Linked DNA regions of Homo sapiens: all the other regions are linked to region 3. The links come from fine-mapping of genetic effects on gene expression. A gene starts in region 3. Each other region holds a variant in brackets. All regions are shown on one strand. Distances are between the middles of the regions.

Region 1 (7,824 bases), 20 kb after region 3:
AACTCAAGACTGACTCATGAGGACCTGAAGGGTGACATCCCAGGAGGGGCCTCTGAAATTTCCAACACCCCAGCGCCTGTACTGAGGACGCCCTCCATGTGTGTCCAATGTGGTCACACGCCCAGGTGTGACCAATAAAAATCCTATGGAAAATTCTCTCTGGCCAGGCATGGTGGCTGACGCCTGTAATCCCAGCACTTTGGGAGGCTGAGGCGGGCGGATCACAAGGTCAGGAGATTGAGCCCATCCTGGCTAACACGGTGAAACCCCGTCTCTACTAAAAATACAAAAAAAATAGCCAAGCGTGGTGGCAGGCGCCTGTAGTCCCAGCTATTCGGGAGGCTGAGGCAGGAGAATCGCTTGAAACCGGGAGGTGGAGCTTGCAGTGAGCTGAGATCGTGCCACTGCACTGCAGCCTGGGTGACAAGAGCCAGACTCCGCGTCAAAAAAAAAAAAGAAAAGAAAATTCTGTCTGACTGCTTCTTCACTGTGGGGCAGGGGTGCCGGAGAGGGTAGGGGCTGTGGGAGAGGGCAGGGGCTGAACCTTACGGACTCCTCACAAGCCCTCCAATGCCCCATCTACTTGCCCTGTGCTAAGGATGTTTTAACTCTATGGTCTCAAAAGAATCTTCCTAAGAACCTTGCAAACTGGGACTTAATAATCCCATAAGGGCATTGAGGCCCAGAGAGGTGAGGCTACTTGTATAAGGTCACACAGCCAGGAAGTGGAGAACTGGAACTAGATTGAACCCTCAGCCAGGCAATGTCACTATGCTACACTTTTCCTAGTGTGGTCTACCCGAGATGAGGGGCTGAGGTTTTTTGTTTTGTTTTGTTTTGTTTTGAAACAGAGTTTCGCTCCTCTTGCCCAGGCTGGAGTACAATGGCACCATCTCAGTTCACTGCAACCTCCGCCTCCCAGGTTCAAGGGAGTCTCCTGCCTCAGCCTCCCAAGTAGCTGGGATTGCAGGTGCGTGCCACCATGCCTGGTTAATTTTTGTATTTTTAGTAGAGACGAGGTTTCTCCATGTTGATCAGGCTGGTCTTGAACTCCTGACTTCACATGATCTGCCTGCCATGGCCTCCCAAAGTGCAGGGATTACAGGCATGAGCCACCTCGCCTGGCCTTTTTTTTTTTTTCTTGAGACAGAGTCTCACTCTGTACCCCAGGCTGGAGTGCAGGGGCATGATCTCGGCTCACTGCAACCTCCGCCTCCTGGGTTCAACAGATTCTCCTGCCTTAGCCTCCCTAGTATCTGGGATTACAGGTGTGTGCCACCACACCCAGCTAATTTTTGTATTTTTAGTAGAGACAGCATTTTATCGTGCTGGCCAGTCTGGTCTCCAACTCCTGGATTCAAGCAGTCCTCCTGCCTTGGCCTCCCAAAGTGGTGGGATTACAGGCGTGAGCCACTGTGCCCAGCTCTTACGTAAAATTAAACCACATGCACATGCAAAACAACCCTATGTAAAAAAAAAATTTTTTTTGAGATGGAGTCTGGCTCTGTCACCCAGGCTGAAGTGCAATGATGCGATCTCCACTCACTGCAACCTCTGCCTCCCAAATTCAAGTGATTTTTTTGCCTTAGCCTCCTAAGTAGCTGGGATTACAGGCATGTGCCACCACACCTGGCTACTTTTGTTGTATTTTTAGTAGAGACAGAGTTTCACCATGTTGGCCAGGCTAGTCTCGAACTCCTGACATCAAGTGATCCGCCCGCCTTGGCATCCCAAAGTGTTGGGACTACAGGTGTGAGCCACTGCGCCCAGCTTAAGATTGCATAAGAACAATATTTGAAAGCCATATATCTAATAAGGGGTTAATATTCAAAATATATAAGGGACTCCTACAATGCGAGTGGGAACACCAAACACTGCAGCCACTGTGGAAAACAGTATGGGGTTTCCTCAAAACATTAAAAATAGAACTACCAAATGATCCTGCAATCTCATTTCTGGGTATTTATTCAAAAGAATTGAAATCAGGACCTTGAAGAGATACCTGCCCTCCCATGTTCACTGCAGGTCTGCTTAATACCCAAGATATGGAAACAACCTAAATGTTTATCAACAGATGAATGGGTCAAGGAAATGTGGTCTATACGTGCAATGGAATGTAAAGCATCCTTAAAAAGGAAACCCTGAGGCCGGGCTCTGTGGCTCACACATGTTATCCCAGCACTTTCGGAGGTCGAGGCAGGAGGATCACTTGAGGCCAGGAGTTGGAGACCATCCTGGCCAACATGGTGAAACCCCGTATCTACTAAAAATACAAAAAAAATCAGCCAGGCATGGTGGCGGGTGCCTGTAAACCCAGCTACTCAAGAGGCTGAGGCAGGAGAATCACTGGAACCCAGGAGGCGGAGGCTGCACTGAGCAGAGATCGTGCCGTTGCACTCCAGCCTGGGCGACAAGAACAAAACTCCATCTCAAAAAATAAAAAAAGGAACTCCTGAAGCCAGGCTCGGTGGCTCCCACCTGTAATCCCAGCACTTTGGGATGCCAAGGCAGGAGGATCACTCGAGGCCAGGAGTTGGAGACTATCCTGTCCAACATGGTGAAACCCTATCTCTACTAAAAATGCAAACATTAGCCAGGCATGGTGGCGTGTGCCTGTAATCCCAGCTACTTGGGAGGCTGAGGCGTGAGAATAGCTTGAACCAGGAGGTAGAGACTGCAGTGAGCTGAGATCATGCCACTGCACTCCAGCCTGGGCGTCAGAGCAAGACTCCATCTCAAAACATAAAAGGAAATCCTGGGCCGAGCGCAGTGACTCACGCCTGTAATCCCAGCACTTTGGGAGGCCGAGGCAGGTGGATCACAAGGTCAGGAGATCGAGACCATCCTGGCTAACATGGTGAAACACTGTCTCTACTAAAAATACAAAAAATTAGCTGGGCATGGTGGCGGGCGCCTATAGTCCCAGCTATTCGGGAGGCTGAGGCAGGAGAATGGCGTGAACCCGGGAGGCAGAGCTTGCAGTGAGCCAATATTGCGCCATGCATTCCAGCCTGGATGACAGAGTGAGACTGTGTCTCAGGAGAAAAAAAAAAAAAAAAAAGGAAATCCTGAACCTGGGCATAGTGTCTTATGCCTGTAATCCCAGCACTTTGGAAGGCTGAGATGGGAGGATCAGTTGAGGTCAGGAGTTCAAGACCAGCCTGGGTAACATGGTGAGACACCGTCTCTACCAAAAAAAGAAGAAAGAAAGAGAATAAATAAATTATAAATATTACTCTCTGGGGTTAATGCATTCCCTTCTCCCCCAAAATCAACCCTCCAAACTCCTATACTCTCCTTTCTTCTCACTCAGCAGCCTGTTAGAACTCAAGTCAGATTTTTTGTTTTTTTGTTTTTTGAGGCGGAGTCTCACTCTGTTGCCCAGGCTGGAGTACAGTGGCACCATCTCAGTCCACTGCAACCTCTGCCTCCCAGGTTCAAGCGATTCTCCTGCTCAGCCTCCCAATTAGCTGGGACTACAGGTGTGTGTGTGTCACCACACCCAGCTAATTTTTGTATTTGTAGTAGAGACGGGGTTTCACCATGTTGCCCAGGCTGGTCTCAAACTGCCCAGCTCTAGCGATCTACCCTCCTCGGCCTCCCAAAGTGCTGGGGTTACAGGCATGAGCCACCGTGCCCAGCCTCAAGTCAGATTATGCTCTTCCTCTGCTCAGAACTCTCCTGATTCTCTCAGAGCAAACCCAGAAGAACTTACCAAAGGCCTACAAACAGGACACTACCCGGTTCACGATCGCCTCATCCCTCTCTCTCCATCACTCACAAGCAACTCCTTGCTATTCCTCCAATGTACTGGGCAGGTTCCCACCTCAGGGCCCTTGCAGTTACTGTTCCTCTTGCCTGGAATGTTCTTCCCCAGGGGTCCAGATATCTGCCTGGCTCCCTCCTCACTTCCTCCAGTTCTCTTCCAAAATCATCCCCTGCCAGACATAGTGGCACACTCCTGTAATCCTAACCTTTGAGAGGCCAAGATGGGAGGATTGCTTCAGCTCAGAGGTTCAAGACCAGCCTGGGCAACATAGCAAGACCCCATCCCTCCTAAAAAAAATTAGCTGGGCATGGTGGTGCACACTTGTGGTTCCAGCCACTTGGGAGGCTGAGGTAGGAGGATGGCTTTGAATCAGGGAGGTTGAGGCTGCAGTGAGCCATGTTCCAAATTAGATAGTGGTGATTGTGCAACCTTGCCAATATAGGAAAAACCATTGAACTGTACACTTTAAAAGGGTAAATTTAGCAGGACGCGGTGGCTCACGCCTGTAATCCCAGCACTTTGGGAGTCCGAGGCGGGCAGATCACTTGAGCTCAAGAGTTCGAAACCAACCTGACCAACATGGTGAAACTCCATCTTTACGAAAAATTAAAAAATTAGCCAGGCGTGGTGGCAAGTGCCTGTAGTCTCAGCTACTTGGGACGCTGAGGCGGGAGAATTTCTTGAACCTGCGGGGCAGAGGCTACAGTGAGCTGAGATTGCCCCACTGCACTCCAGCCTGGGCAACAGAGTGAGACTCCATCTCAAAAAAAAAAAAAAAAAAAAAGAAAAAGAAAAAAGGGTAAATTTTATGGAATGTGAATTATAACTCAATTTTTCAACATGCATTAGGAGGGACATTTCAAACCCTTTTTTACCCCAGCCTTCCCTGCAATCACCCAGAGTATCCAGCCAGGAGGGGAGTGGCTAGAGACACCAGAAGATTAGCAGGGAGGAGGGTGCAGGGTTTCGGGGGATGAGGGGATGGGATTCAGACCAGGGTAAGGATCCAGGGGTAGAGAGAAAGATTTGAGAGTGGTTTTGGGGCTTGGTGACTTAGAGAACAGAGTTGCAGGCTCTGTTTTTGGGCCCGCCCTGCCCC[C/G]TTCCGACCTCTTAGTTCCTATCCTCCAGCAGCTGTTTGTGTGCTGCCTCTGAAGTCCACCCTGAATGACCTTCAGCCTGTTCCCGTCCCTGATATGGGCAAACATTGCAAGCAGCAAACAGCAAACACATAGCCCTCCCTGCGTGCTGACCTTGGAGCTGCGGCAGAGGTCAGAGACCTCTCAGGGCCCATACCACTTCCAACATCCCCTTGATCTCTTGGATTTTGGTGGAGAGGGGCAGAGGTTGTCCTGGCCTGGTTAGGTAGTGTGAGAGGGTCCCGGTTCAAAACCACCACTTGCTGGTTGAGGAGTCGTCAGTAAGTGGCTGCGCCCCCACCCTGAGGCTTGTTTCTCCATCTGTACAATGGAAATGATGAAGATGCCCACCTGATAGGGTTTTTGTGGCAAATAAGTAAGTAGTTTTTTTGTTTTTCTTTTTCTTTTTTTTTTTTTTTTTTTGAGATGGAGTCTCACTCTGTCACCAGGCTGGAGCGCAGTGGCGTGATCTCGGCTCACTGCCAACTCCACCTCCCGGGTTCAAGCGATTCTCCTGCCTCAGCCTCTGAGTAGCTAGGACTACAGGCGCCCGCCACCACACCCAGCTAATTTTTGCATTTTTAGTAGAGATGGGGTTTCACCATGTTGGCCAGGATGGTCTCAATCTCTTGACCTTGTGATCCACCTGCCTCGGCCTCCCAAAGTGCTGGGATTACAGGCATGAGCCACCACGCCCAGCTCCCCCACCTTTTTTTTTTTTTGAGATGGAAAGCTCTGTCACCCAGGCTAGAGTGCATTGAGCCATCTTGGCTCTCTGCAACTTCTGCCTCCCGGGTTCAAGCAATTCTCCTGCCTCAGGCTCCCAAGTAGCTGGGATTACAGGCGCCCACAACCATGCCTGGCTAATTTTTGTATTTTTAGTGGAGACAGAGTTTCACTATATTGGCCAGGCTGATCTCGAACTCCTGACCTCAAGTGATCTGCCTGTGTCAGCCTCCCAAAGTGCTGTGATTACAGGCATGAGCCACCATGCCCCACCGCAATTAAGTAAAGTAATCATCTAAAAGCCCTGCCATGGTTCCTGCCACACAGTGTGTGCTGGGGAAGCGCGCACGAATTAAACAGTAGCTGGCGTTGACGGGGCACCTATGCGGCATTTTCTGTGCACGATCTTTACTCTCCCTGGCAACCCTATGAGGTAGATAGTCCATGACTCCCATTCATGGATGAAGAAACAGGCCCACACAGGTAAAGCAACTTGTACCAGGTCATACCGCTAGAAAGATGTAGAGTCAGCCACGCGCGGTGGCTCATGCCTATAATCCCAGCACTTTCGGAGGCTGAGGCGGGATGATCACTTGAGGTCAGGGGTTCGTAACCAGCCTGGCCAACATGGTGAAACCCCGTCTCTACTAAAAATACAAAAATTAGCTGGGCGTGGTGGCGGACGCCTGTAATCCCAGCTACTCAGGAGGCTGAGGCAGAAGAATTGCTTGAACCCGGGAGACAGAGGTTGCAGTGAGCTGAGATCACGTCACTGCACTCCAGCCTGGGTGACTGAGCAAGACTCCATCTCAAAAAGAAAAAAAAACAGGCCAGGAGCAGTGGCTTACACCTGTAATCCCAGCACTTTGGGAGGCCAAGGCGTGTGGATTGCCTGAGGTCAGGAGTTCAAGACCAGCCTGGCCAACGTGGTGAAACCCTGTCTATACTAAAAATGCAAAAATTAGCTGGGTGTGGTGGCAGGCGCCTGTAGTCCCAGCTACTCGGGAGGCTCAGGTAGGAGAATTGCTTGAACCCAGGAGATGGAGGTTGCAGTGAGCCGAGATCGCGCCACTGCACTCCAACATGGGCAATAGAGCAAGACTCCATCTCAAAAAACAAAGAAGGGAGGGAGGGAAGGAAAGAAAGGAAAAGAAGCAACAGGTAGAGTCAGGCTCTGAACCCCACACCAATCATAACACAACACACAGTAGGTTTGTTTTTGTTTTTTATTTTGGGCTTTTGTTTGTTGTGGAGACAGCGTCACCCAGGCTGTAATGCAATGGTACAATCATAGCTCACTGTAGCCCTGAACTCCTAGACTCAAACAATCCTCCCACCTCGGCCTCCTGAGTAGCTGGGACTACAGGGGCATGCCACCACGCCTAGCTAAATTTTTTTTTTTTATTTTTAGTAGAGATGAGGTCTCCCTATGTTGCCCAGATTAGTGTCTTAACTCCTGGGCTCAGGTGATCCTGCCACCAGGGATTACAGGCACGAGCCACCATGCTGGCCCTTGTTTTTTGTTGTTTTTTTTTTTTTTTTTTGAGACGGAGTCTCGCTTTGTCGCCCAGGCTGGAGTGCAGTGGCGGGATCTCGGCTCACTGCAAGCTCCGCCTCCCGGGTTCACGCCATTCTCCTGCCTCAGCCTCCCAAGTAGCTGGGACTACAGGCGCCCGCCACTATGACCGGCTAATTTTTTTGTATTTTTAGTAGAGACGGGGTTTCACCGTTTTAGCCGGGATGGTCTCGATCTCCTGACCTCGTGATCCGCCCGCCTCGGCCTCCCAAAGTGCTGGGATTACAGGCGTGAGCCACCGCGCCCGGCCTGTTTTTTTTTTTTTTTTTGAGACTGAGTCTCGCACTGTCGCCCAGGCTGGAGTGCAGTGGCGCGATCTCGGCTCACTGCAACCTCCACCTTCCAGGTTCAAGCAATTCTCCTGCCTCAGCCTCCTGAGTAGCTGAGATTACAGGTGCCCACCACGATGCCCAGCTAACTTTTTTTTTTTTTTTGGTATTTTTAGTAGAGACGGGGGTTTCACCATGTTGGTCAGGCTGGTCTCGAACTCCTGACCTCGTGATCCGCCCGCCTTGGCCTCCCAAAGTGATGGGATTACAGGCGTGAGCCACCGTGCCCAGCTTTTTTTTTTTTTTTTTAAGAGACGGGGTCTTACTATGTTGCCCAGGCTGGACTCT
Region 2 (6,060 bases), 28 kb after region 3:
AGGATTCTGCCAAGGCAGACATCTGGGTCAAGACAGTCCTGCACAGTTGTTCAGGTTGTGGCCAAGGTTGCGTTTGCAGATTTGCCATGTAAAAATACAGGATGCTCAGTTACATTTGAATTTCAGATTAATAGCAAAAAAAACTTTTTGGTATAATTCTGAAATATTTCATGGGACATATTTATACTAAAACGTCATGCACTGTTGATTTGAAATTCAAATGTAATTGGGCCTCCTCTATTTCGTCTGGCAAGCGTAGACAAAAGAATCCAGTCCAGGCCAGGCGCAGTGGCTCAAGCCTGTAATCCCAGCACTTTGGGAGGCCGAGGCGGGCGGATCACGAGGTCAGGAGATCGAGACCATCCTGGCTAACACGGTGAAACCCCGTCTCTACTAAAAATACAAAAAATTAGCTGGGCGTGGTGGCGGGTGCCTGTAGTCCCAGCTACTCGGGAGGCTGAGGCAGGAGAATGGCGTGAACCTGGGAGGCGGAGCTTGCAGTGAGCCGAGATCGCGCCACAGCACTCCAGCCTGGGCGACAGAGCCAGACTCTGTCTCAAAAAAAAAAAAAAGAATCCAGTCCATAGTCCCCTGAGCCATGTGCCCTGGGGTGCAGCTGGGTCCTTCAGGAGAAAAATGCTCTATTTCTGGCACTGGGACCGAGCCTGATGTGGGTTTTTTGTTGGTTTTTGTTGTTGTTATTGTTTTTGAGACAAGGTCTCGCTCCACCACACCCGGCTAATTTTTGTATTTTTAGTAGAGACGGGGTTTCACTACGTTGGCCAGGCTGGTCTTGAACTCCTGACCTCAAGTGAGCCGCCTGCCTCGGCCTCCCAAAGTGCTGGGATTACAGGTGGGAGCCACCGCCCTGGCCCTGGGCCTGATGTTGATGACCTCCTACTATGTGCACCTGCAGCTCTCCTGCATAGGCCTCAGCCGTCCTGCATGAGGACACTGGGAGGCAGGTGCTCCCTATCAACCCCGTGTTACAGTTGAACAAACTGAGCCCCAGAAAAGAAAACGTATTTGCCCAGGTCACACGGTGAAGAAGTGAGGGATTCGAAGCCCAGGTCCATCTGAAGCCAGAGTCACCCAGAGGAGAAAGAGTTGGAATTGAGAACTCAAGGAATGCTTGGAAGTGATCGGGCTCGAGCCCACCTAGGAAGAAACAGAGGCTGGAGACATGAGACTGTGTTGCTATTTCCTCTCATCAACCCTTGGGCCCTATTGAGGCCCTACCACAAGCCTGGCCCTGCAGCCCAGTGACTAGGAGAAATTAGACACAAGATAATAATAACAGCAATGATCTTTTTTTTTTTTCTGAGACGGAGTCTTGCTCTTTCGCCCAGGCTGGACTGCAGTGGCGCGATCTCGGCTCAATGCAAGCTCCACCTCCCAGGTTCACGCCATTCTCCTGCCTCAGCCTCCCGAGTAGCTAGGACTACAGGCGCCTGCCACCACGCCTGGCTAATTTTTCATATTTTTAGTAGAGATGGGGTTTCACCGTGTTAGCCAAGATGGTCTCAATCTCCTGACCTCGTGATCCGCCTGCCTCGGCCTCCCAAAGTGTTGGGGTTACAGGCATGAGCCACCGCGCCTGGCCAACAGCAATGATCTTTGAGCACCTATATTGCCAGTCTCCACGGTAAGAGCTTTCTTCATTTTTTGTTTTGTTTTGTTTCAAGACAGAGTCTTGCTCTGTCACCCAGGCTGGAGTGCAGTGGTGTGATCGCGGCTCACTGCAGCCTTCACTTCCCGGGTTCAAGCCATTCTCCTGCCTCAGCCTCCCAAGTAGCTGGGATTACAGGCACGCATCACTACTTCTGGCTAATTTTTGTATTTTTAGTAGGGACAGGGTTTTTCACCATGTTGGCCAGGTTGGTCTCAAACTCCTGGCCTCATATGATCTGCCCACCTCGGCCTCCCAAAGTGCTGGGATTACAGGCGTGAGCCACTGCGCCTTTCTTTGTATTTGTTCAAGTAATATACTGAAATATGTACTGTGCCTCCCACTTTATGGAGGAGGAAACTGAGGCCAGCAAATGAGGCTGTCATGGGAGGTGGAGACAGGATTTGAACCTGCCTCAGTGCAGGAGGCTCAAGAGCCTCTGTCTTCTCTCAGGGCACTGTGTGGGAGGGTGAGAAGGAGGGAGGCCCACAGAGGCATGACCTCTGATTGCCACTGTCACCTGGGCCCTGCTCTCTGAAGTCTCTGCCAAGCGGGGAGGTGGCCGGGGGAGGGCCCTGCTCTGTGCAGCCTCCCCTCCCCCGGCCCGCAGAGTTGAGCACAGAGGGACAGAGGCACGGAACCCCCAGAAATGTCCCTCCTCAGAAACAGGCTCCAGGCCCTGCCTGCCCTGTGCCTCTGCGTGCTGGTCCTGGCCTGCATTGGGGGTGAGAAGAAGTGGGTGGAGGGATGTGGGGCCCACACCTGGTGGGTGTGAGTGTGGCTGTGTGTCCTGTGGCTCTGTAGCCACGTGAGACATGAGTACGGAGTGTGTGCGTTTCATGGCGTGCGTATGCATGTGCGTGTCGGGGAGTGTGTGTGTCGGTGGCTGAGAGTGAAGTGTGAATGTCACATTGGTACAAACTGGGATCATCTGTGTGTGTGCACGTGCGTGCGTGGAAGTGGGAGTATGCAGTCGTGGTAAAAAAGTGCATGTCTGTGTGCATATGTGTATTTGTGTGCACCTGTCTCTCTGTGGGGTATGTGTGTGCAAAATATTTGAGTGTGTGGACATGTGTGAGGGGGTGAGTGTGTGCTGGTGTGTACGTCTGTGTTTTGCATATGCATTTTTTTTTTTTTTTTTGAGACGGAGTCTCACTCTGTCACCCAGGCTGGAGTGCAGTGGTAGCAGTGGTGCGATCTTGGCTCACTGCATCATCCGCCTACCCGTTTCAAGGGATTCTCCTGCCTCAGTCTTCAGAGTATTTGGGACTACAGACACACGCCACCATGCCTGGCTAATTTTTTTTTTTTGAGACGGAGTCTCGCTCTGTTACCCAGGCTGGAGTGCAGTGGCGTGATCTTGGCTCACTGCAACGTCCGCCTCCCGGGTTCACGCCATTCTCCTGCCTCAGCCTCCCGAGTAGCTGGGACTACAGGAGCCCACCACCACGCCTGGCTAATTTTTTGTATTTTTACTAGAGACGGGGTTTCGCCGTGTTAGCCAGGATGGTCTCCATATCCTGACCTCGTGATCCGCCTGCCTCGGCCTTCCAAAGTGCTAGGATTATAGGCGTGAGCCACTGCGCCTGGCCAATGCCTGGCTAATTTTTTTATATTTTTGGTAGAGACAGGGTTTTGCCATGTTGCCCAGGCTGGTCTTGAAATCCTGACCTCAGGTGATCCGCCCGCCTTGGCCTCCCAAAGTGCTGGGATTACAGGCATGAGCCACCACGCCCGGCCATGTACTTTATGTTAAAATGGGATCATATTCTAGATCAGCATTATCCAGTAGAAATTTAAATTTTTAATACAGGGCCAGGCACGGTGGCTCATGCCTGTAATCCCAGCACTTTCGGAGGCCGAGGCGGGTGGATCGCAAGGTCAGGAGATTTGAGATCATCCTGGCTAACAGATGGGTAAAAACCCATCTCTACTAAAAATACAAAAAATTAGCCATGCATGGTGGCATGCGCCTGTAGTCCCAGCTACTCGGGAGGCTGAGGCCGGAGAATCACTTGAACCCGGGAGGCAGAGGTTGCAGTGAGCCGAGATCGCGCCACTGCATTCCAACCTGGGTGACAGAGCGAGACTCCGTCTGAAAAAAAAAAAAAATTTAACACGTATGTAGACAATGTGCAAGGCACCATTCCATGTGCATCGTATGTAGTAACTCTTAATTCTCACGATAACCCTGAGGTAGATATTATTACCCCGTTCTACAAAAGGAGAAACAGTCCTGGGGAGACAGGATAAGTCACCGGCCAAGGCACACAGCTAGCTACATGTGGCCCCCGCGTGACGGCTGGTCTCTGTAGGCGAGGCTTTGTCCAGATGC[G/A]TGGGTAGAAGGTCTGGCCCGGAAAGAGGAACTGACAGCAAGGCTAAGCCAATGTCTGCCCCTGGGGGCAGAAAGTCACCTCCTGCTCTCCCTCCACTGTCCACAGAGGTAGCTCAGACAGGGTGGGGGTCACAGGAGAACGAAGGGAGAAGGGGGTAGTTCCTGGGCAGCAAAATCAGGTGGTGAAGGGAGGCATCAGAGGATGGCAATTAGAGAGGCCATTAGAGGGGAACCACAGGCAGACAGGGTGACAGGAGGGACTACTGACACAAGGTGAAGAGATGGCCCAGCCGGACGGGGTGGCTCACATCTGTAATCCCAGCATTTTGGGAGCCCGAGGTGGGTGGATCACTTGAGGTCAGGAGTTCGAGGCCCCAACATGGCAAAACCCCATCTCTTCTAAAAATACAAAAATTAGCCGGGCATGATGGCAGATGCCTGTAATCCCTGCTACTCGGGAGGCTGAGGCAGGAAAATTGCCTGAATCCAGGAGGTGGAGGTTGCAATGAGACGAGATCATGACACTGCACTCCACCCTGGGCAACAGAGCAAGAGACTGACTCTGTCTCATAAAAAAAAAGAAAAAAGAAAAAAAAAAAGAGATGGCTGATGGTTAAAGAGGGGTTAGCGGTCAGGGGACACATAAGGGTAAAGGCAGGAGGCAAGAGGACTGGCAGGGGGCTGCCCCTGGGCCACCGGGAGCGACACAGGATGAGCATGGAGGGAAAGGGAGAAGGGGATTCTAGGGTCCCAGCCTACCCAAGTTGCCCTCTGGTTCCACCTAGCATGCCAGCCAGAGGCCCAGGAAGGAACCCTGAGCCCCCCACCAAAGCTAAAGATGAGTCGCTGGAGCCTGGTGAGGGGCAGGATGAAGGAGCTGCTGGAGACAGTGGTGAACAGGACCAGAGACGGGTGGCAATGGTTCTGGTGAGGGTGTGCTGGGCTGGGTGGTGGGAGGGGACTCCTGGGTCTGAGGGAGGAGGGGCTGGGGCCTGGACCCCTGAGTCTCAGGGAGGAGGAAAGGGTGGGAGTGGGGCTGTGACCCCTAGGTCTGGGAGGAGTGGAGGGTTAGAGCTGAGAGCAGGAACTCCTAGGTCACAGAGAGGAGCGGATAAATGGGGCAGAGAACACCTGGGGAGAGCTGGGGCCTCCACTGTGATGTCCTCTCTCCTGTAGGAGCCCGAGCACCTTCCGGGGCTTCATGCAGACCTACTATGACGACCACCTGAGGGACCTGGGTCCGCTCACCAAGGCCTGGTTCCTCGAATCCAAAGACAGCCTCTTGAAGAAGACCCACAGCCTGTGCCCCAGGCTTGTCTGTGGGGACAAGGACCAGGGTTAAAATGTTCATAAAAGCCAGGTGTGGTTGTGGCGGGTGCCTGTAGTCCCAGCTACTCAGGAGGCTGAGGTAGGATGATGGCTTGAGCCCAGGAGTTCGAGACCAGCCTGGGCAACACAGCGAGATCTCTTGGGGGTAAAACAAAAAGAAAAAAAAAAGTTCATACTTCTCCAATAAATAAAGTCTCACCTGTGTCCCTGTCTGGATCCTTCCCCAGTGTGGCCAGAAAAAAACCCACCCCACTGCCTCCCAGGAATCAATGAGTAGAAGAGGTGACACCTGATGGGGAAGGAAGAGTAGGGAGGTCGGGAAGGGTATCAAGGAATAACACCCTATTGTGGGCTTGCGGAGAATGGGGGACTTCAAGGCGTGTCAGTTTCAGGAGGGTGAGGGCAGGAGCGTGGGTGGAGTCAGCAGGTCCCCATGATGGCCCTCACTGAGAGCTTCGCCCTTGTCTCCTACAAGCTCTGACTCCATTCCCAGTGGGCACCCAGCACCTCCAACCCCTCCACAGCCCCCAACCCAGCCTCTGTCGGAGGCGAATTCTCAGAGTGAGGGTTCCCTGTCACTTGAGAGAAGGTTCCCTGTGACGTGACCTTGGGGGACGTCATTGCCCTTTCTGTCCCCACCCACCCCCTCCGCAGTTCTGTTGGCCAGGACTTTGGCCTAGACAAAGGATGGGGGTTGTGGCTGTGGAGCGGAAGTGGGTCTCAACCA
Region 3 (7,824 bases):
ATTGTTGGCCAGGCAGGTCTCGAACTCCTGACCTCAAGTAATCTGCCTGCCTCACCCTCCCAAAGTGCTGGGATTACAGGCATGAGCCACCTCACCCGGACCATCCCTCATTCTCCATCCTTTCCTCCAGTTGTGATGTCTACCCCTCATGTTTCCCAACAAGCCTACTGGGTGCTGAATCCAGGCTGGGAAGAGAAGGGAGCGGCTCTTCTGTCGGAGTCTGCACCAGGCCCATGCTGAGACGAGAGCTGGCGCTCAGAGAGGGGAAGCTTGGATGGAAGCCCAGGAGCCGCCGGCACTCTCTTCTCCTCCCACCCCCTCAGTTCTCAGAGACGGGGAGGAGGGTTCCCACCAACGGGGGACAGGCTGAGACTTGAGCTTGTATCTCCTGGGCCAGCTGCAACATCTGCTTGTCCCTCTGCCCATCTTGGCTCCTGCACACCCTGAACTTGGTGCTTTCCCTGGCACTGCTCTGATCACCCACGTGGAGGCAGCACCCCTCCCCTGGAGATGACTCACCAGGGCTGAGTGAGGAGGGGAAGGGTCAGTGTGCTCACAGGCAGGGGGCCTGGTCTGCTGGGCCTGCTGCTGATTCACCGTATGTCCAGGAGCTGGAGCAGCACCCTCTCAGAGCCTCAGTTTCCCCAGATGTCAATGAGAGAATCAGCATCAGCCACATCTCCCACCTGAAGAATCGAACCTTGAGTTCTCACCTTTAAGAATTTTTTTTTTTTTTTGAGACAGTGCCTTGCTCAGTCGACCACGCTGGAGTGCAGTAGCACGATCATCAATCACTGCAGCCTCCAACTCAAGCAACCCTCCTGCCTCAACCTCCTGAGTAGCTGGGGCCACAGGCACCCACCACCATGCCTGGCTAATTCTTTCTTTTTTGAGATGGAGTCTCACTCTGTCGCCCAGGCTGGAGTGCAGTGGCACCATCTTGGCTCACCGCAACCTCTGCCCCCCGGGTTCAAGCAATTCTCCTGCCTCAGCCTCCTGAGTAGCTAGAATTACAGGCGCACACCACCACACCAGGCTAATTTTTGTATTTTTAGTAGAAACGAGGTTTCACCACGGTGGTCAGGTTGGTCTCAAACTCCTGACATCAGGTGATCCACCCGCCTCGGCCTCCCAAAGCACTGGGATTACAGGAGTGAGCCACCATGCCTGGCCATATTTTAAACTTTTTTGTAGAGATGGGGTCTTACTATGTTGCCCAGGCTGATCTCAAACTCTTGGGCTCAAGCAGATCCTCCTGCCAAAGCTTCCCAAAGTAGTTGGATTACAGGTGTGAGCCACCACGCCCCACCAACCTATGAAGATGTCTAAGCAGACAGGGTGCCCTATCTCACCACATCCCCAGTCAGATCCAGAGGTGGGACAAGGATGGGAAGGAGGTTCCAGAACAAAGGCTGGCAGGGAGTCGTATGGGACAGGAGCTGACCCAGCAACCATCCACAGAGACATCCTGGAGCCTGGGAAGGAGAAGGACAAAGAGCCCCCTTTTTTAAATTTTTTTTATGTTTTTGAGACGGAGTCTCACTCTGTCACCCAAGCTGGAGTGCAGTGGCACAATCTTGGCTCACTGCAACCTCCACCTCATGGGTTCAAACGACTCTCCTGCCTCAGCCTCCTGAGTAGCTGGGACCACAGGTGCACACCACCATGCCTGGATAATTTTTGAATTTTTGGTAGAGACGGAGTTTCACCATGTTGGCCAGGCAGGTCTCGAACTCCTGACCTCAAGTGCTCCGCCCACCTTGGCCTCCCAAAGTTCTGGGAATACAGGCGTGAGCCACTGCAACCAGCCAGTAGCCCCCATCTTTGCCCCTCGCTGAGCCCTACTGGATGTTCTTGGTTATGCGACAGTTTCCCCATCTATTAAAGAGAAACCCCTATAGCAGAGGGGAGGATGAGGTTGGAAAAGCAGGAGCATTGTTATGCTATTCTTGTGGGGTCTGGGAAGCAGACATCTGGGTGGATGTTTGGGGGGTGCTGGGCTTAGTTGGGGAAGTAGGGGGGCCCCTGGGGCTGACAGGGACTGGAAGCTCTGAGCTGGCCAGAGGGATGTTGCAATCCTGCCAGGGTCTTGTCTATGCTGTCCTTTTCACAACCATCCCCCTACTGCCAGGCTGACACGTGGTTGCGGGGGCACAAGGCCAGCCAACCTAGAGTCTGAGGCTAGGCGGAGGACACCCTCCCCACCAGCTGCCAGGGTCACTGGCGGTCAAAGGCAGCTGGTGGGGAAGGCATTGGACTCCAGCCTTGGGGGACGGATGTAGTGATGGTGGGAAGCAGGCTTGGTGCCAGGAGGGGCGTCAGAGGGTGAATAAAAGCAGATAGAGTGTTTGGGGGAGGTAGCCAGCCAAAGGGGGTGAGGCCCGGTGGAAGGGAAGAAGGGACATACACGCAGAGCTTTGCAGCTGAGGGTTTTAATTTTTTGAGATGGGGTCTCTGTCCCACCAGGCTGGAGTGCAGTGGCACAATCACAGCTCACTGCAGCCTCGAACTCCTGGGCTCAAGCAATCTTCCTACCTCAGCCTCTTGAGTAGCTGGGACTACAGGCATGCGCCACCACGCTCGGCTAATTTTTGAACTTTTTTGTAGAGATGAGGTCTCCCTATATTGCCCAGGCTGGTCTCGAACTCCCAGGCTCAAGTGATCCTCCCTCTTCAGCTTCCCAAAGTGCTGGGATTACAGGCATGAGCCACCATGCCTGGCTAATGCAGGTGAGGTTTTTGCAGTGTCATCCAGCTAAGGCGACCCGTTCCCCTCCCAAAAAAGGGAGACTGAGAACCATGAAGTTAAGAGCCCAGAGAATATCACGGTGGTCTGGGGTGCTTCAAGGGCTGGTCTGGAATAAATTGGAGGTGGCACGCAGGGTAGGAGCGCCGGGCCAACTGGGAGACCCAGCAACATAAAGGAAAAGTTGTTGGGGCTGAGGAGGCTTGCTGAGAGAGGGGAAGTGAGGGAAAGAGGTGATCTAGGGACACGGTGTGAATGAGGGGGGGATGAGATCACAGGGTTATTACTGGGAGACCCCTGAGGGAAGATGGCCACAGGGACAGGACAAGGCTGTCTTCTTAAGGGAGGAGACCACCCCTCATATTGTCTTATGCCCAATTTCTGCCTCCAAAGAAAGAAAAAGTAAAAACTAAAAGGCAGAAATGAAATCCACAAGCAGACAGCCCGCGCCACACCCTGGGCCTGGTGGTTAAAGATTGACCCCTGACCTAATCCGTTAGGTTATCTATAGATTACAGACATTGTATAGAAAAGCACTGTGAAAATCCCTATTCTGTTTTGTTCCGATCTAATTACCGGTGCATGCAGCCCCCAGTCACGCATCCCCTGCTTGTTCAATCGATCACGACCCTCTCACGTGCACCCACTTAGAGTTGTGAGCCCTTAAAAGGAACAGGGATTGCTCACTCGGGGAGCTCGGCTCTTGAGACAGGAATCTTGCCCATTCCCCGAACGAATAAACCCCTTCCTTAACTCAGCGTCTGAGGAATTTTGTCTGCGGCTCCTCCTGCTACATTCTGAGTGGGGAAAGGGACTAAGGTGGTCTGAGGACCCCACAGAGTCAGGAAGATTGAGAGGTGAGAGTGCTGAACGGGGAGGGGCTTTGGGGCTAAGGGAAGTGCCCGGGACCCCACCTGACCCCAACGCTCACGGGACAGGGGCAGAGGAGAAAAACGTGGGTGGACAGAGGGAGGCAGGCGGTCAGGGGAAGGCTCAGGAGGAGGGAGATCAACATCAACCTGCCCCGCCCCCTCCCCAGCCTGATAAAGGTCCTGCGGGCAGGACAGGACCTCCCAACCAAGCCCTCCAGCAAGGATTCAGGTTGGTGCTGAGTGCCTGGGAGGGACACCCGCCTACACTCTGCAAGAAACTCAAAAAGGGAGATGAGGGGATCGTGGGAGGGAGGTAGGGAGGGAGGAGGGTGCCACTGATCCCCTGAACCCCTGCCTCTGCCTCCAGAGTGCCCCTCCGGCCTCGCCATGAGGCTCTTCCTGTCGCTCCCGGTCCTGGTGGTGGTTCTGTCGATCGTCTTGGAAGGTAAAAGTGGGATGGGAGAATTGCGGAGTTGGAGATTTGGAAGAGTGAAGGTGGCTACAGGCCTGGGGTCCCGGCTTAGAGGACCTCTGAGAGCTCCGGGGCCCCTTCTGGGTCGTGGTTGCCTCATCGTGGTCGGGTGGGTCTCCAGGTTCTCCCAGGCTCAGTCCCGCAGGCGCCAAATCTGCGCAGGAGAGCACTAGCAACCGATGACGTATTGAGGCCCACACCTCTGGGATTGGCTGTCCTGCTTCGACAGCCTTGAAAGTGGGTAAGCTGGGTGGGGGGCTCTGGGAGAGGTCAGTGCTGAGTAAGGCAATTCCCAGCAGCTTGAGCCCCACCAGGTCACTCCAGTATTCCTCCCCATTCTTTTTTTTTTTTTTTTTTTTTCTCTTGAGACGGAGTCTCGCTCTGTCGCCGAGGCTGGAGTGCAGTGGCGCGATCTCGGCTCACTGCAAGCTCCGCCTCCCTGGTTCACGCCATTCTCCTGCCTCAGCAGGACTACAGGCGCCCGCCACCGCGCCCGGCTAATTTTTTGTATTTTCAGTAGAGACAGGGTTTCACCGTGGTCTCGATCTCCTGACTTTGTGATCCGCCTGCCTCGACCTCCCAAAGTGCTGGGATTACAGGCGTGAGCCACCGCGTCCGGCCATTCCTCCCCATTCTAACCACATGATCCCCAAGGATCTCTATCCATCCCGGTATCCCAACCTAAGGGGGTTCCAATAACAAATTTTTGGCCGGGCAGGGTGGCTCATGCCTGTAATCCCAGCACTTTGGGAGGCCGAGGCGGGCAGATCACTTGAGGTCAGGAGTTCGAAACCAGCCTGGCCAACATGGTGAAACTTCGTCTCTACTAAAAATACAAAAAAATTAGCCAGGTGTGGAGGCACGCGCCTGTAGGCCCAGCTACTCGGGAGGCTGAGGCAGGAGAATCACTTGAACCCGGGAGGCGGAGGTTGCAGTGAGCCGAGATCATACCACTGCACTCCAGCCTGGCTGACACAGCAAGACTCCGTCTCAAAACAAAACAAAACAAAAATAGCTGGGTGTGGTGGTGCACACCTGTAATCCCAGCTACTTGGGAGGCTGAGGCAGGAGAACTGCTTGAACCCGGGAGGTGGTGGTTGCAGTAGGCCGAGATCATGCCACTGCACTCCAGCTTGGGCTACAGAGCAAGACTCCATCTCCAAAAAAAAAAAAAAAAAAACAAATTTTGAACCCCTGCCCATCTTCCTGGCAGGCCCAGCCCCAGCCCAGGGGACCCCAGACGTCTCCAGTGCCTTGGATAAGCTGAAGGAGTTTGGAAACACACTGGAGGACAAGGCTCGGGAACTCATCAGCCGCATCAAACAGAGTGAACTTTCTGCCAAGATGCGGTTAGAACCCTTCCCAGGGCACGGGAGAGCTGGGGTGTGTTTTTGGGTGGAGCCCTGGCAGATGGTCCAAGATGAACAGATTGAAAAAAAAACAAGTCCTGGAGAGGCTGACAACATCCCTCTGGTCACACAGCTAGATCTCAAGGTGCTCAGACTTCAAGGACAGTTTCCCTGACTCCCATCCAGGCCATATTTTAAAAGATGGTCTTGGGCTGGGCACGGTGGCTCATGCTTGCAATCCCAGCACTTAGGGAGGCCGAGGTGGGCTGATTGCCTGAGGTCAGGAGTTCGAGACCAGTCTGACCAACATGGTGAAACCTTGTCTCTACTAAAAATACAAAAAAATTAGGCAGGCATGGTGGCGTGCACCTGTAATCCCAGCTAGTCGGGAGGCTGAGGCAGGGGAATTGCTTGAACCAGGAAGGTGGGAGTTACAGTGAGCCAACATTGTGCCAGCCTGGGTGACAGAAGGAGACTCTGTCTCAAAAAAAAAAAAAAAAAAAAAAAAAACAAGATGGTCTTGCCCAGGTATGGTGGCTCACACCTGTAATTCCAGCACTATGGGAGGCTGAGATGGGAGGATTGCTTGAGCCCAGGAGTTCGAGACCAGCCTGACCAACATGGCGAGATCCTGTCTCCATTTAAAAAAAAAAAAAAAAAGATGGTTTTGTGAGGTAATGAAAATGAAGGCCCCAAGCTTGGCCAGACCTGGGTCCCCAGGCTGGAGTAGCACCCCTTCCTGTGTGATCTTGACAGAGGGGCATTACTGTGAGCCTCAGTTTCCTCTCCTATAAACTGGTGGTTCTACAGGGAAGTAAAGGAGCAGGCCTACAGGGTGTCTGGTACATGTAGATGCTCAGTATATCATGAAACCCACCCTTGCCCCCTTTGGCAAGTTAGAGAGTCATTCGTTCTTTCAAAAATATTTACTGAGCATCTGCTAAGTGCTGGAAACTGTTTCAATGTGGGGAATAAAACAGTGAAGAACGTGCCGAGCACGGTGGCTCACACCTGTAACCCCACCACTTTGGAAGGCCGAGGTGGGTGGATCACTTGAGGTCAGGAGTGCGAGAACCCCGTCCCTAATAGAAATGCAAAAAAAATTAGCTGGGCATGGTGGCCCATGCCTGTAGTCCCAGCTCCTTGGGAGGCTGAGGCGAGAGGATTGCTTGAGCCCAGGAGATCTAGGCTGCAGTGCGCCATGTTTGTGCCACTGCATTCCAGCCTGGGTAACAGAATGAGACCCTGTCTCAACAAAAAAAGAAAAGAAAAGAGAAGAAAAGAGAAAAGAAAGACAGGGAGGGAGGGAGGAAGGAAGGGAGGGAGGGAGGGAAAATAGAGCCAGGCATAAACTTAGAAAGATCGTTTGGAGGCCAGGCACAATGGCTCACACCTGTAATCCCAGCACTTTGGGAGGCCAAGGCAAGCAGATCACCTGAGGTCAGGAGTTCGAGACCAGCCTAACATGGAGAAACCCTGTCTCTACTAAAAATACAAAATTAGCCGGGCGTGGTGGTGCATTCCTGTAGTCCTAGCTACTCGGGAGCCTGAGGCAGGAGAATCACTTGAACCCGGGAGGCGGAGGTTGCAGTGAGCCGAGATCATGCCACTGCACTCCAGCCTGGGCGACAAGGCGAGACTCCATGCCAAAAAAGAAAAAAAACTCCTGGCGCGGTGGCTCACGCCAGTAATCCCAGCACTGTGGGAGGCTGAGCAGGCGGATCACGAGGTCAGGAGTTCGAGACTAGCCTGCTCAACATAATGAAACCCTCTCTGTACTAAAAATACAAAAATTAGCTGGGTGTGGTGGCAGGCACCTGTAGTCCCAGCTACTCGGGAGGCTGAGGCAGGAGAATGGCTTGAACCTGGGAGGCAGAGGTTGCAGTGAGCCGAGACAGTGCCATTGCACTCCAGTCCAGGTGACAGAGCGAAACTCCATCTCAAAAAAAAAAGGAAGGCATTGGTAGCAAGAGATGGCAGGCCTTGAAAGCCAGGCCAGGGTGAAGTGTTTCTTTTTTTTTTTTTTTTTTTTTTCTTTTTAAATTTTTTTTTTTGAGACGGAGTCTCGCTCTGTCACCCAGGCTGGATTGCAGTGGCCTGATCTCGGCTCACTGCAAGTTCCGCCTCCCGGGTTCATGCCATTCTCCTGCCTCACCCTCCCGAGTAGCTGGGACTACAGGCACCTGCCACCACGCCAGCTAATTTTTTGTATTCTTAGTAGAATGTAGAATTTACTTAGTAGAATTTTTTGTATTCTTAGCCAGCATGGTCTCGATCTCCTGACCTGGTGATCCACCCGCCTCGGCCTCCCAAAGTGCTGGGATTACAGGCGTGAGCCACGGCGCCCGGCCTTATTTTTTCTTTTTGAGATGTACCCAGACTGGAG

Evidence for each region.
Region 1: its variant is fine-mapped to the expression of APOC1 in testis (GTEx, PIP above 0.99). The same link has a PIP of 0.9 or more in ovary, skeletal muscle and tibial nerve.
Region 2: its variant is fine-mapped to the expression of APOC1 in lung (TOPMed, PIP above 0.99).

What each region holds. Positions count from the first base shown.
Region 1 is chr19:44,931,038-44,938,861 of GRCh38, forward strand. It overlaps the pseudogene APOC1P1. Among named protein-coding and RNA genes, the nearest start is that of APOC4, 7.3 kb to the right of the region's middle. The variant C/G (reference allele first, on the strand shown) is at 4,869.
Region 2 is chr19:44,939,960-44,946,019 of GRCh38, forward strand. APOC4 (apolipoprotein C4) reads left to right here and starts at 2,278. Exons shown (of 3, transcript NM_001646.3): 1 at 2,278-2,394; 2 at 4,790-4,931; 3 at 5,181-5,537. The coding sequence starts at 2,319. The coding sequence ends at 5,346. It overlaps APOC4-APOC2 (APOC4-APOC2 readthrough (NMD candidate)), which reads left to right and starts at 2,279. Exons shown (of 6, transcript NR_037932.1): 1 at 2,279-2,394; 2 at 4,790-4,931; 3 at 5,181-6,060. The variant G/A (reference allele first, on the strand shown) is at 4,005.
Region 3 is chr19:44,910,888-44,918,711 of GRCh38, forward strand. APOC1 (apolipoprotein C1) reads left to right here and starts at 3,721. Exons shown (of 4, transcript NM_001645.5): 1 at 3,721-3,846; 2 at 3,985-4,062; 3 at 5,303-5,438. The coding sequence starts at 4,005. RefSeq lists enhancers at 1,757-2,516, 3,275-4,034, 4,035-4,792 and a promoter at 2,734-3,860.